Linked DNA regions of Homo sapiens. The protein of the gene in region 2 interacts with the protein of the main gene of each other region in a biochemical or structural test. Each region holds a gene or a part of one and is shown on either strand. Other genes may lie near its edges.

Region 1 (7,649 bases), on a different chromosome or scaffold from region 2:
TAGCTGGGATTACAGGCGTTTGTAACCACGCCCAGCTAATTTTGTATTTTTAGTAGAGACAAGGTTTCACCATGTTGGCCAGGCTGATCTCGAACTCCTGACCTCACGTGATCCACCTGCCTCGGCCTCCCAAAGTGCTGGGATTACAGGCATAAGCCACCATGCCCAGCCAATGTTTGTGTTTTTTGTAGAGACAGGGTTTCACCATGTTAACCAGGCTGTTTCTGAACTCCTGGCCTCAAGCAATCCACCCACCTTAGCCTTTCAAAATGCTGGGATTACAGGCGTGAGCCACTGTGCCCAGGCTCAATCCAGCCTTTTTTTGGCAGGATATTTAATGATATTAAAGAATTATTATTAAATTTTTGTAGGTACAATAATGATATTGTGGTGGGTTTTTTTTTTAAGAGTTTTATCTTTCAGAAATGCAAAAGTAAACTGTTGTTGTTGTTGTTGAGAAAGGGTCTCTCTCTGCCATCCAGGCTGGAATGCAGTGGCTCAATCATGGCTCACTGTAGTCTCGACTTTCTTGGGTTCGGATGATCCTCTCAGGTCAGTCACCTGAGTAGCTGAGACCACAGTGGCTGATGCCTCCACTCCCGGCTAATTTTTTTGTCTTTTTTATAGAGGAGAGGTTTTGCCATGTTGCTCAGACTGGTCTTGAACTCTTGGGCTCAAGCAATCTACCCATTTTAGCCTTCTAAAATGCTGGGATTACAGGTGTGAGCCACTGCACCCAGCTGTAAACATTTATAGATAAAAGTATTTGCTTCAGAATAACCTACGCTGGGCCTAGGAACGGAAGAGAGCATGCAGGTAGCAAGATTAGTTATGTATTGATAATTGGTAAAACTGGCTCGTGGGTAAATCAGGCTCATTATTCTTTTCTCTCTATTTTTGTGTATGTTTGAAAATGTCCAGAATGAGTTTTTCGAAAGGGGATGGTGTGCAGCCCTAGGCTCATCTGAACTGCATGTTCTCCACAAAGATTGCACAGTTTGGGGTATGGGTATTGTGTCCGCCACCTGGTAAGGATAGGGGTCTTTCCTAATCTTTCTTAGACCTCCATCTACAAAACTCCAGGGTTTTGGTTGTAACTATAGCCCATTATCTCCACTCTTTGTTCCTCAGCTTTTCCTGTATTCGCTACACGACATTAGAAAATGTGGAGACTCAGCTTAATTTAAATGGACATATTTAATGATTAAGCCCTGGAGTCCTAGTATCTATTCTCCTCCCCCTACCCAAAGGGTTTTCTTTTCTAACTTTTAGTCAATATCCTACTCCTGACAAAACTGTATCCTTGCAATGGTGCTGGAGCATGTGGATTATAAGCACACAACATTCCCAGTCTTTCCAAACAGACCTCTGTGGGGAGCTGCTGGCTGCTCCCAACAGGCGTGACCTGTTAAAACGGGGCAGACTGGCGACAGAGTGAGACTCTGTCTCAAAAAAAAAAAAAACGGGGCCGACTGTCCCAAGTGCACCTGAGTGCATTGTGCTCTATGCATTGGCGGCAGCATAACACGGGGCCAAGAGCTCAGGCCTGGACTGAGACCTGGTTTAGATTTCAGCTCTATTGTAATCTCAGCCTGTCTGTGGTCTCGAGAAAGCTACTAAACCTCTCTGGATCTCTTTTTTGTTATCTGTAATATGGGAATCATCATAATATTTACCTCACAGCTTTATTGTAAGGATAAAGCCTGAAAATGCTGAGCAGAGGGCCAGTTACCTAGTCAGTGCCCAGTAAACTAGTCCACTTATCAACCATGGTGGCATGCATAATGAATAGATCCATCCATCCGGGCATGCATGATGGTCAGATCTACCAGAATGTCCAAGCACTCTCTGAATGAAAAAGCCTGGACATGGCCTGCTGTGGCCTCAGGGTATGGGCTCTCAGCTCACATCAGGCTGGCACTGGCCTCTGTATGAGAGTCCTAACCTCTGCCCTCACACCCTCCCACATGCCCATGTCAAGCTCCACAAGGTACCTGTGTCCTCTGGGGAGCCATAGGAGGGGCTGCCCTGGGATAAGGTAGCCCAGCTTGAGTCCTCATCACTGGCTGCACTGTTCCGCATGCCAAACAGGAGGCTGGCACTCTTGCTGTGTTCCCGGGGGCCATCTGTAAGGGCTTGGGGCCTGGGAGGGGCCTCCACACTCTCCAGGGGCTCAGGCAGCCCTGGGGGAGAAGATAAGTCCTCCTCCTCCTCTTCATCATCATCATCCTCCTCCTCCTCCTCGGCCTCCCCGGCCGCCTTCTCCTCTCCCTCATCTGGCCCCTGCTCTTGAGTGCTGATGATCAGGCCAGGTCCTCGTAGGCCTCGGTTGGCTGCGTTGTGAGCTGAGAGCTCCAGCTCAGAGTACAGGTGTATCAGGCCTTTGGGGCCCAAGGGTGCCATCTCAGGCTCCTGGCTGGCCTCCTCCGCCAAGGTCAAGGTCACATTGCGATTCTGGTCACGGTGGGCCGTGGCGGCCCGCCGGAGCTGGTTCTGGCCCTCTTTTAGCCACTTGGCATTGGCAGGGCCTGGCTCAGGCCCACCACCCTCCCCCATGGCGCTGCGCAGGTCCTTGGGTCCCACAGCTGTGGCCTGCAGCTTGGCGTTGAGCAGCTGGTTGTGGGCAGCGTGCAGAGGCAGGGGTAGGCTCAGTGCGGGGCCTCCGTGGCTGTTGGCATTAATGGCCGACTGGCTCAGTGATGATGGAACAGACATGGCCTTGGCAGCTCCTGTGGGGTGCGGAGGGGAGATGCTGTTGAGCCTCTGGTCCAGAACAGCAGCATCACTGCTTCTGCCCCAGGGCTATGCCCTGTGCCTCCTCATCTCCCTGCACTAAGCAGGCTAGCACCCATGGCTCTCTATCCTATGAGAATGACTGGGTTCAACTTCTGTCCCAGCACTATCATCCCCATCACAGTCCAGGCCCAGGTCTGAGGCCCACCCCATCCCTATATCCCCTGCCCTGAGCTTTCTGGGATGGCACAGCTGGCGCCTGCCCTCGGTCCCACCAGCAAGGCCTCCACACAATGGCTCTCTGTGCCTCCCCACCCCCCAGCTCATCCACCCGGGGCTTACTGTGCCAGGAACACCACTAGAGTGGGACCGGCTCGTGTGTTTTGGACACTGATCACTGACTGCCCCTCTCCGGCCGCACTTCCATCCCAAGCCCCATCACTGTAAGCTCCTCCGGCTGTGTTCCTATTCCCATAAATCACTCAGCTCAACCAGCCCCCAAGCCCACCCCATACTAGGGACTGTGAGGACAGGAGCAAATAAGCTGCAGAACCAGCCCTACAGGGCATGGCACTGGAAGGCAGGTCACAGAGGGAGGGCGCTCGGCTGCAATTCATGGCTTCTCTGGCCAGATGAAGCTACATCTTGGTGACAATTTCCATGAAGTAGCTCCCCTTGGGCACTGGTCCCTCTGCCAGCCCTCATAATGCCCTGTCCTGGATCACTATGGGAGCCTTTCCCCTGGGCCCCTCAGCCTTTCAGATCTTTGTTTTTTGGGGGTTGTTTGTCTGTTTGTTTGTTTTTGAGACAGAATCTTGCTCTTGTTGCCCAGGCTGGAGTGCAATGGCACAATCTTGGCTCACTGCAACCTCTGCCTCTCGGGTTCAAGTGATTCTCCTGCCTCAGCCTCCTGAGTAGCTGTGATTACAGGTGCCCACCACCACGCCCAGGTAATTTTTGTATTTTTAGTAGAGACGGGGCTTCACCATGTTGGTCAGGCTGATCTCAAACTCCTGACCTCGTGATCCGCCCACTTCGGCCTCCCAAAGTGCTGGGATTACAGGCATGAGCCACTGCGTCCGGCCCAGCCTTTCAGATCTTTGACCAAATGTCACAGCCTCAGTGAAGCCTTCCCTGAACACCCATTTTAAAACCACAGGCTACCTCCGCCCCTCCTCAGCAATCCCTAAACTCTTCCCCAGCGCCTGTCACCATCTGACAAGCCAATTTATTATTTACTTTGTCTAATGATTGTCTCCTCATGACTATAATTTATAATTTCCATGTTGGTGAGGATTTTGCCTTTTTGGTTAAATACAGTATGCCTAGTGCCTAGCGTAGTCCTGGCACAGAGCAGGAACTCCATTAATATTTGCTGAATGAATGTATGAATCAGTCCCCATTTCCTCCAGGCTTCGCTTTGGCATCTCCTCTGCCAGTGTCAGAAAACACTTTGGTTACGTTACTATGCCTTATGGTGCCCCAAACAAACTCCACCTGCCTCTCAGGTAAGAGGACGTCCTGTTCCGCAAGGACAGCTCCCCCTCCAGACCCCTCCCTCTGCCTCCTCACAGCCCTTCGTGGGTCAGTTTCTCCGCAACCATTTGAGTCCCAACTATCCTTCCAGCCCGCCACCCAGGGACCCACCCTCGGCCCCATTCCATCCTCCCCACTCTCCCTGACCTTCCAGTTGCTCTGCTGCTCTCCTTCCCGGACCCCCAAGAGAAAGTGCTCTCTCCCTGGACCCTCACCAGCCCCCGATTTCAGTTATTTCTCCCTGACCAACCACTGCCCACTTCTCTCTCATCCTGAGCCCTCCATGCAAGCCCTCCTTCAGACAGCCCCTACCACATTACTCTCTCCTCCCTCGATGGCCTCACTGATTCTCTTGCCCTACCCGACCCTTCCCCCAACAGACAATTCTCCCTCACTGACCATCCCAACAAACACTGCACTGTGCTCTTTCTCATTCCCACTGTACAGACCTTTCTCCTTGATGTCTTATCTGAGAGTTCCCTATCTCCCTGTTCCTCTACTAAGGAGTTCTTTCTTTCCCTGACTCACCACTACCCCCCTTCCCTCTGTGTTCTCAGCGCTGAGCACAGGTCTTGCAGCTACCTGAGCAGGGCTTGCCCATCTCTCCAGGTGCGGTGCGCCCAGGCTGGAGTGCAATGGCACGATCTCAGCTCACTGCAACCTCCTGCAGCCTCCTGAGTAGCTGGGATTATAGGTGCCCACCACCACGCCCAGCTAATTTTTGTAATTCTTTTTTTTTTTTTCTTTTAAGTAGAGATAGGGTTTCACCATGTTGGCCAGGCTGGTCTCAAACTCCTGACCTCAGGTGATCCACCCGCCTCAGCCTCCCAAAGTGCTGGGATTACAGGCGTGAGCCACCGCGCCCGGCCCCATAGCTCACCTTTCTACGTCTCTAGTTCCTCAGACACTAGTGCTATGCTACCCACACATCTGTAAGATGAAAAAGGTTTCTGCGCACGTGTCTGCCTCACGTGGGGCTGTTGATCTGCTCAGTGTGACTCCTCCTGGCCAATGAGAAAACTCACAGCCACTGGAATAAATGAAGAAAAAAATAGCTCTACCTCCTCCCAGAACCACAGTAATCTTCCAAAAATGGAAACCAGATTGTGTCACTCCCTGGTTCAGAAAATGAGAGGGCTCACCACTGCCTTTCGGATAACGCCTGCACTCGTTCGCAGACACCCAAGAGCCCTCTTAAGCCGGCCTCTATAACCTGTCAGTCCCCTCCCCACCTCCCGCCTCCTTTATACCTTATACTCTAGCCACATGAAGCGTGGCGGATTCTGAAACATGTCGCACACTCTTAAAGCCCTGGGTCTTTGTTTATACTGCTCCCTCGGCCTGGAATTCTGTCTCCCCTTGTGAGAACCTCTGCTTGTATTTCAAAACTAACCTCAGCAGTTACAGCTCCTAAGCAGTCTTTCCTGTTCTCTCCCCACCATCAAGTGACTGTTCTCTCCTTCGTGTCTCACAACACCCAGAACCACATTCTATCAGAATATCTGAGACGGTGTCTTATTCAATTTCACATTCCCATTACCAAAGAGAGTGTGCCGTGTGCCGACACAGACTGGGCTGTTGCAGAAGGAAAGGACGGATGAACGGGACAGACACAGGGGGTGGGAGGATCCAGGAAGCTCAGAACTGGCTGGGAATAAATACCAAGAAAGGCTGTGTGGCCCAATGGGCTGGGGAGGAGCAAAGGGAGTGTTTGGGAGGGTGTCAGAGAATGCCAAAGGGTCCCTGAGTGGGAAGTAAGATGGGACAGGAATCCTGGAGAGGTGAGGGCTGAGATCTAGGAAAAGGGAGCGAGGGAGGTAGCTTAAACCAACATCTTGGCACAGACACTGTTCAAGAGTGGCATCTCCATGGGTGTCAGGAAGCAGAAGACTCCACGACTCTGCCATGCTCAGAGGACCTTAAGGATGGCAAACCCTTCTCTGAAGCAGTAGTGTACAGAGCCAGGTTTCTCAAAGGTCAGGCAGAGACCAACCTCCTAGGCACTAGGAGATATGATCTGAGAAGAGTGCATGCACTGTGAGGCTGAAACAGTGAAGAGCCAAGTTGACCTCAGGGCAGCCCCGCCAATCTGGTCACCAGGGCAGGAAGTATTAGAGGAAGAATGGTGAAACTGTTTAAGTGCTGAAGCCTGAGCATCTAGCCTGAGGTGGTGTGGTCACCAACACCCCACTGCTCGAGGTCAAAAAGATGATCTCAGTCCAATTTTTTAAAGAAGGAACACAACCTAATCTCTCCCCTCTCATTGGAGTTACCAAAGGATGCAAAGAGCCAACTGGGTTCTGGCTCAAGGCAGGGAGTTGGGCAGGGGCCTCGGGGCAGGAAGTGAAAGAAGTAGTCACTAAGCCTGAAGATCCTGGCATCAGACCACAGGGGTTGGGGTTGAGTCTTGCTCAAAGTCAGGAGTTGTCTAATCTGACAGCTTCCCATATGCCAGGCACTGTGCTAGACACAGGGGAGAGTGATGAAGACAAAAGAAATGGTTCTTCCTCTGGAGGAGTTCTCAGTTCAGCGGGAAACAGTCATTGAACAACTTGTTACAATGCAGTGTAACACCAACATCTAGAACAGTGCCTGGCACCCATAGCATTCCCTATTTGTTGACTGAATATCATGAAGGAGGAAGAGGAGGGCATTACAGGAACCTGGGGCTTACTACAGCCAAGACATCAGCAAAGGCCTGCCTGAGACTAGGACATAACTCTCCATTGGCCACCCGTCTCAGAGGCTGATCTCCCCTCCTGATTCACAGAGGAAAGGGAAGCCATCCAACTGGGTAACATCCTCAAACATAAAAACCTAACCAAACTTCAGCACCTATCCCTTTCTCTCCTTCCCAAAACCAACTGCTTCACCTATGATTTGGATTCTTCCTATGATGCCTTTCCAGGAATTTTATACCACTGTTTATCTATTTTCTCCTCTATATGATCAACCTCTCCTTCTCAATAGGATCCACGGTCTCCCAACTTGACCTGACGCTCCTCCAGATCCACTCACTGCTCTCTTTCCTCCCCCATACAGGCAAACTTCCTGAGAGAGTTGTCTCCACTCACTGTTGCCACTTCCTCACCTCCCACTCACTCCTCAACCCTTTCCAAACCTGCTTCCACTCCCAACACGACTCAGTAACAGCTCCTACCAAGGTCAACATGACCCCTGTGTCATTCAATCCAACAGACACAGTGCTCGTCTTGGTTGTCCTCCCAGCAGCATCTGACCCCGTGAATCTCTCATCCAGCCTCTATCCGGGGCCTCCACACTCTCATCTCCACACTCCTCATCTCATCTCATCTTTTACACTTCTTGTTACTGTTTGCTGGGTTCCTAGACTCCTCTGCTGGCTCATCTTCCTCTATTAG
Region 2 (7,649 bases):
TCATTTAACCACAATCACATTTTTTTTCATAAGAGAGTCTGAAATCTATACAATATATACATCTATGTTTCAATGTGAAAATAATATTCTTTTAAATTTCAAGGCGTGTTATACCCCTGCAGACCTGCATAAATGGAGGTTCATATTATTCATTATAACTAAGCTGGTAAGGAGTTTAAAAAACAGAGCTTCATACATTATTATTATTTTATTTTATTTTTTAACCAAATTAATGCAAAAGTGCTTCAAAGTACTCAGAGGGCTAAAGATGAAAGGGTGAGAAATGCCAGCACACTCGAGTCTCGTGGAAAAGGTGTGCCTGATTCCGTTATAAATGCTTAATTAAACTGTCTGTTAATGCATGCAGCTTGAAGCATCGGGAGGATGCTCACAACTAAATCCCGTTTACACAAAGTTCCAAACACTTACCACTGCATTTTAACCTTCATATTTTACCAGTAACAACAGCTGATTATGCACCTCTATTAAACACTGTACAGTTATACAAAACAGTCCAGCCCAGAGTGATTCTCTGCAGTTAAAATAAGAACATGTGCCAAGAACAACAAGTCAGAGGGGGCCTGAAGGTGCCTTCCACAGTTTCCCTCAAAGCAAACTGCAGTCCTTTCTATCAAAAGCAAATGCTACTGCTTCTCTAACTCAGAGACATACAGAAGGTGGTCTTCCGGAGATTTCCCGTGTGTTTTGCTAAGGTGAAGTTTAACAGCGTGCTTGCTGGCAAAGGTCCGATTGCAAAGTTTGCACTGATAGGAAGTCCCCAGGTCTTCCTCGGGGGAGGACGTCACCATTTTTTCTGACGGTGACTTGGTTTGTGCTATCTGACTGTTAATCTGTTCGGTGGACAGTTTGGATAAGTCCCGTAGCCGGAAGCCTAAGTGTGACTCTAGGTGACTGATGTACGTGGAAGGAGTCCTGATTTGGGACGCACAATCGTTACAAAAGAAGACGGGGTGGCCAGTGTCCAAGTTTTTGAGGAACTTTGTTCCACCTGTCCTTCGAAGCTGGTATTTCACGTTGGCCAGCCAGTGGCTGATGGTGGTCATGGACAGCCCGGTGAACCTGGAGATATGCATCCGCTCCTGGGGGCTCAGGTCTGACATGATGTACTTCCCTTCTGAGGTCTGCCGGAGGCTGGCGGCAAACTGGGCCTGGAGGATCAGGAGGTGCTGGGGGTTCCAGTTTGACTGGCGGCCCTTCCTCTTCTGGGCGGGCGTCGACTCCTCAGCCTCCTCCAGAGTGGCCCCGTCAATGTCAGACTTCTCGGAGATGCTGGAAGGAGTGGAGGATTTTGACGTGTGGCTCTCTGTCAAGTTCTTCAGCATATCGGATATATCTGACAAGGCATTCTCGCGTAGCGGCGAGTTTGACATGAATGATACGACGGCAGATGTCTTTGCCGTTGTCACCGTGGATGAGGAGGTTGCCGGGGCTGTGGACGTGGGTGACAGAAGCACTGAACCCAAGGAGCAGCCTTTGTCACTCTTCCCTTTTGTCAAGTCTATGGGCTGGTCGTTGTTGACGTGGTAGAAATAGCGGTCGAGGTGGTCTGCCTTCTTGGACTGCAGGGGCGGCGGGGTGGCCACAGCAGCCTTCTCCGCCAGGCTGTTGCTCATCTTGAAAAGCATGCTCATGGGGTCCAGGGCAGGCAGGGAGGGCTTGGCGGCCTTGCCCAGGTGAATGTTCATGACTGACTGCAGGGCGCTCAAAGGGTTAACAAAAGGCTGTTCAGGCGGGTGGTCGGTGATGATGGCCGTGCTGCCACTCAAACTGCTGGCTAGGGGCTTCACCAGCTCCTTGCCATTCTCCACCGGCTCAGCGAGGGGGCTCCCATCCTTGCACCCATCCCGCGGGGGGCTGGGGCTGTTCTCCTGGCTGCGGAAGCCCCCATCGCTGGATGCCTCCATCTTGATGGGTTCCCCGACTTCGCTGCTACATGGGGAGGGAGTGGCCCGCTTGGGCGGGGAAAGCTTCCCATCCGGCTCCTTCATCTTCTCCTCCACTTTGGCAACTTTCTCAGTGACCTTTTTCACCAGCTCCTCCATGGCATGAAAGTTTGTCTTGGGCATGGGGGACGTCTGGCTGCTGGGTGGAGAGACCAGGGTCTGGTTTTTCGTCGGGGAGACAATCTCACTGTTGCCAAACATGGGTTTCAGGGGCGTGCTCTTCCCCGACGAGCCCAGGGACAACTTCATCATGTTGGGAAGTTGGTAGGCGGCATGGATGCTGGGATAGCCCCCCCAGCTAGGAGTGCCGTTCTGGGCCTTGTTGATTGCGGATGTCACTGTGTTTTCCAAGGATTTGAGGATATCAAGCCCCCCCTTGGGACTCTCTTCTAAGTCATTTTCAGTCAAGTAATGGTATTTGGAAGAGATGTCACACTTCTCCTCTTCTTCGCCAGGCTTGTCTTTTTGCTTAGGTTTCTCGTCAGTGACCGCTTTCTCCTTGTCGACTTCCTTCTTGACCTCCACATTCAGTTTTGGGGAGATGCTGGCAGGTGTATTGGAGGGGGACGTGAAGGTGGTGGCTGCCAGGGGCACGGACTGGACCTTCTCATCCAGCAGGGTTGTGATGGTAGGTGTGACAGGCGTCTCCACAATGGGCTTCCCCTTTTTCATAGCAGAGTTGGTGACCTTGATGAAGTGGCCAGTGACCATCATGTGGGCAGTGAGCTCCTGCAGGGTGTCATGCGAGCTCCCACACTCCATGCACTTCAGGATCTGCGACTTCCGGGCCTCAAAGTGCCATGCATAGCTGGCCCCATTCTGGTGGCCGTACCGATTATTTGGCGTGATGTAAGGGTTGGAGTTCTTCTGAAGTGCATCGTTGGTGTCTGAGATGGTGGCTTTGGGGGTTCCACCTGTGGAATCTGGGGAGCTGGGGAGCTCCAGCTCCAGGGAAGCTTTCTTCCGAGTGGCAGGGATGATTTTGGCGGCGACAGGAGTGACGGGTTCCTTCAGAGGCACTTTTTGGTAGTGTTTTGTTTTGATCATATGGACACTCAAATCCTGCAGGGACTCAAAGGAGTGGCCACAGTACATGCACTTCAGCACCTTCTGGGCGTCTTCCTTCCCTTCCATTTCCAGCAAGGAGCGTTTGCGAGGCTTGGACCAGCGCTTGGGGTTGTTGTTATCGGTCTCATGGTTGTCGTCGCGGTAATGCCCCGTCTCGTTCATGTGCACCGTCAACTCCACCAGGGTGTCGTAGGCAGCGCTGCAGTCCTTACAGCGGAACTTGCTGGCCCCCGTGAAGATGGAGCCATAGAGCTTGCTGCTCTGCCGGTACAGCTGCACGGTGCTGAAGAGGCTGGGCTCCGGGAGCATGCGGCTCTGTGACACCTGCTGCAGCGTCTTAGCCATGGCGCTCTGGTGCCAGTCGAAGCTCCCGCTGCCACAGCTGCTGCTGCTGCTACTGCTGCTGCTGCTGCTGCCGTTGTTCTTCTCCGAGGAGGGCTGGTGCAGGTTGAGGTTGAGGTTGGACCAGTAGGAGTTGGAGAGGAAGTTGTTGTACACGGCCTTCATCTGCTCCAGGCTATCCGACACAGTCGTGTCTTCCAGTGGGACCGTGACCTCCTTGGTCTCCTCTTCGTTCTTGATGGAGCCGCTTTCAAAGTCAGCCATTCGGTCACTGGTCTCACTGATGTGTGACTCGCTGTCCATTTCATGGCAGGAAAACTCGGCGGCCGGGGAGTTCTGGTAGCTGGGGCAGGCCCTGGCGAGCTCCTTCTCCGGGCACATGTACTTGGCCGAGGGCTCTCCATCTGCCGTATGCTCCTCTGGGTCTAAACCTTCGTCCACCAGGGCAGCAGCCTTTAACTCTTCGGAAACATAGGCTGCCATGATAACAGGTGGGAAAGAGAGACAGGTAGGATGGAATGAAGAGAGACAGGGAGAAGGAGAGAAAGAAAAAAAAAAGCATTAGTACTTGTTGATCTTACCTAGAATATGTTCTGGGCTCTCAGGAAAACACAGCAACCCAGATGGGTACATGTATTTGTAAAATTAAACAGTTAAAATGTGGTGTTTCTTTGGAGCAAAAAAAAAAAAAAATCTGCTCTTCAAACATAATTTGCCACCTTATTCTTCTCAAGGGGCAACAGCTTGAAATTAAAACTAAATTTGAAATTAATGAAGCACATTCTGGAGGTGGCATTCATTTCTAAAGTAATAAATTACTTGTATCAACCTCAGAGACAGCAGTTCCTGTCTGTCAATTAATATGTCTTATGCTTCTCCTACCCCTAATGCATTTCTTAACAGACAGATTCACAATTTAAATTAAGCAAGCATTTTTTACTCATTACATTTTTGAGGCTCAATCTTTAATAAATATAAAGTATAAAAACATCAATAAAATTTTTACCAAGTAAAAAGAAAAGTACGTCCATTGTAATAAGGGAAAAACAAGATTTTGTGGCTTTTTTTTTTTCTTTCTTCCTTCTGGAAAAGCAGGTCTCAGAAAAGCTTAGAGGTAGGTTTCCTGGCAGGGATAGGTGTGGGTTCGTTCCAGTTGAGAGGAAATACCCTGACCAGCTACCACCCAGCCCCCAGCCCTGTCCCCCATGTGAACACTCAGCCGTTCTCAGCCACCTGTGCACACACACTCTCCATGCAGAATTATGTCACAACAAGTTCAGGAAAATTGGTATGCGGTGCTCATTCCTGATGTATAAATATATACAAGACCTTCCAGTGGACCTTACAAATGTCAAAGTGTTTGCTCTTTAGACTACTTTGTCAATATTTACTCAGTATAAGCTTCATGGGCATCCAACAGAGATCCTGTCTTTCTGGAAGCGATGTAACTGGGATGTAAATCCAGCATGCATTCCCACGCAGGTGGAGGGCAGGCCACGCGCCTGCAGGTTCTGGAAGATGCACGTCCAGAGACACAGAGCCCAGAGAATACTTGCGTTAATGCAACAGGGTGTTTTTTTTGTTTTTGTTTTTGTTTTCATTCTCTTGCATTCGGTGACTTGGGTTATTCCTTACTAAACTGATCTGCCACTGCATACTGCATCAGGGTAGTTTTTTGGACAGTGAGGAGTGGCCAGCCCTGTGGCTAGGAACAATTTCAAGGTAAAGGAAAAGGAGAAATAAAGTGACTTTGTCCTGTCAGCTTCTAAATACTTGTTTGCTTCAAAAGGCCAGTGGGGAAGTGTGTTAAGTGGTTGGAACGTTGCAGTGCTAATTGCAAGGCTGATTTCTACAAAAAGCTCTTAAGAAAGGAAGGGAAGTTTTGTTTGTGGAATTGACTCCACCAGCTTTAAAGATTTGCCCCTGTTCCATTTCACATCAGAAAACCAACAACAACAATAAACAAACAAACAAACAAAAACAGTGAAATGAGTCCCTTGAAGTCAAGCAGATAGGCCCCCCTCATTCCTTCCAGGACAGGTGTGATTCTTTTGCTCCTAAGCCCCCTACTTTGAGTGCCAAGATTCCTAAGCCAAGACACATGGAATCCCAACACTGATGTAATGTGAACTTGGATGGGAACTGCCCCAGGTACACACATCAGCTGCAGGGAGGGGGATACTTCTGCTCATTTGCCAACTACTAAGCAAGAGTCTTGTCCAGGAGCCATGGATGTTCTTTACAAATGACCAGAAGAGAGTGCCCTGCTGCAGTCAGCTGAGTGTGAAGTGCTGTGGGGAACCTCAAGTTTAAGGCCATGCACTTTGAGATGACAAATAAAGACAGCAAAAGCTCTGTTCCTAGGGCCAAGACCAAATGCTTAGGGAAATACGGCGCTGGCCAATGGAGGCTCCTGTGCTAGCCACAGTGAAGACTGTGAATGCATGTGTTGGAAAAGAATAGGAAAAGAAAAAGAAAAGAAGACATCTCACTCTCCCTCACCTGCCCCCCGACAGACTTCCTCGGCATGCAGCACATTCTAGAAATCTGGACTCAAAACTCCAATGGAGTGGCAGGCCTGGAGGAAGAACAGCCGAGGTAGAATAACCAAGTGTCCCAATTTGCCTGGAGCTGTCCTGGTTTCAGCACTGAATGTCTTGCATCCTGGGAATTTACTCAGTCTTATGCAAACTGAAGGATGGCTTGTTACCCTAGCTGGGGCACACAGTATGACTGAGGTCAGAGCATCCAGGTGGGTCTGCAACCTCTCTTATAATCCTCTCGGGGAACAGCTGGAGCAGAGTAGGCTGGGTTTAGCTAGACACAGCCCACTGTCTGCAGAAGTGCACCGGGTGCATGCATATATGATGTTTCCATAGTACGGTTTTATTGTAAACGGGGAAAGAGGAGGAAATCCCATGGCTGGTGTCCCTCCCACTGAGACTCAAGGAAATGCCCAGGCCTGTGTAGATGGGTGAAGATATCAAAGCCCCTTCTGTCCTGGAGATGCCTCTTGGAGCCACAGTCTGCAATACAAACCCCACACCCTGGGGATTTTGCTCCTATTACAGTGGCTCCCATGAAATTAAGTCTGAGAGAGAAATGGCCCCACAGCAGCCACTACGAGAGGACACCAGCAGCCAGAAGCAGCAGAGCCAATAGTGGACATGAAAGAGTCCTCTGTGGGTGAAGGCCACCAGGTGAGAGGGAAACCCAGGGGCTCTGCCAGCCCACATTCCACCCAGGGGCAATGCATCTCCCCATGGCCAGAGCCTTCCCCACCCCCACTGCACAAGCACCAAACCAGCCCAGGCCGTCCGGAGCACCCCTCCCCAACACATGCACCATGAATGATATGACCAGCTCCTCTCCTGGGCTGGCCCACAACACGCTCTGATATGCTTTGTAAACTACACAGCAGGGTCAGAATGTCATCAGTCTGATGACTGAGGAGGAAATTAATATGGAAAGAAAAGGCCAACCTCTCAACCTCCCTGGTGGAACAAGATCCAACTCAGAGGAGAATTAAAAGGCTCTGGTGCCAAGCAGAACTGGGTCCTGGAGAGACCTGGCCTCACCGCACACCCCACTCCTGACCATGTCATGGTTTCTGAGGGTTCTTTCAAGCGCACACCCTCGTGGCTGTGACGTGGGCCTCACTCCCTGTTCAAATGACCATTTTCTTTTCCGATCTGAAGGTGAGAAGTATTTCCTTAGGTGGAGCCTAAGACTTTTACCCACTGGTTCTCCCCTCCACATTAAAATAAAGGGAAGGGCTGGGCGCAGTGGCTCATTCCTGTAATCCCAGCACTTTGGGAGGCCAAGGCAGGCAGACTGCCTGAGCTCAGGAGTTTGAGACCACCTTCGGCAACATGGTAAAACCCCATCTCTACTAAAATACAAAAAAATTAGCCAGACATGGTGGCACATGCCTGCAGTCCCAGTTACTCCAGAGGCTGAGGCAGGCGAATCACTTGAACCCGGAGGTGGAGGGTGCAAGTGAGCCATGACCCACCACTGCACTCTAGCCTGGGCAACAAAGCAAAATCCTATCTCCAAAAATAAATACATAAAAATAAAGGGAAAATTCCCATCTTCCACCATGCTTTGCAATAATTTCACTACTCTGAGAATATTTATACTCTTGATTACTGAACTTTAAAAATGTTCTAGAAAATGGAAATGGACCCAGTGGAATGAGGGAACTAAGGGATGAAAGGCACTCCACAAATACGCATCAAGCTGCCACAGGCACCAGGCAGGTTGCCGCACACT

What was found.
Region 1: the proteins of TSHZ3 (region 2) and APBB1 form a complex in vitro, tested with the Homo sapiens proteins (one study listed by BioGRID).

The regions. Positions count from the first base shown.
Region 1 is NC_000011.10:6,408,633-6,416,281, forward strand, and holds part of APBB1 (amyloid beta precursor protein binding family B member 1), read right to left. Parts: intron 2,730-7,649; 5' UTR 2,716-2,729; coding exon 1,995-2,715; intron 1-1,994. UniProt on the Homo sapiens protein: Transcription coregulator that can have both coactivator and corepressor functions. Adapter protein that forms a transcriptionally active complex with the gamma-secretase-derived amyloid precursor protein (APP) intracellular domain.
Region 2 is NC_000019.10:31,275,903-31,283,551, forward strand, and holds part of TSHZ3 (teashirt homolog 3), read right to left. Parts: intron 3,851-7,649; coding exon 645-3,850; 3' UTR 1-644. UniProt on the Homo sapiens protein: Transcriptional regulator involved in developmental processes. Functions in association with APBB1, SET and HDAC factors as a transcriptional repressor, that inhibits the expression of CASP4.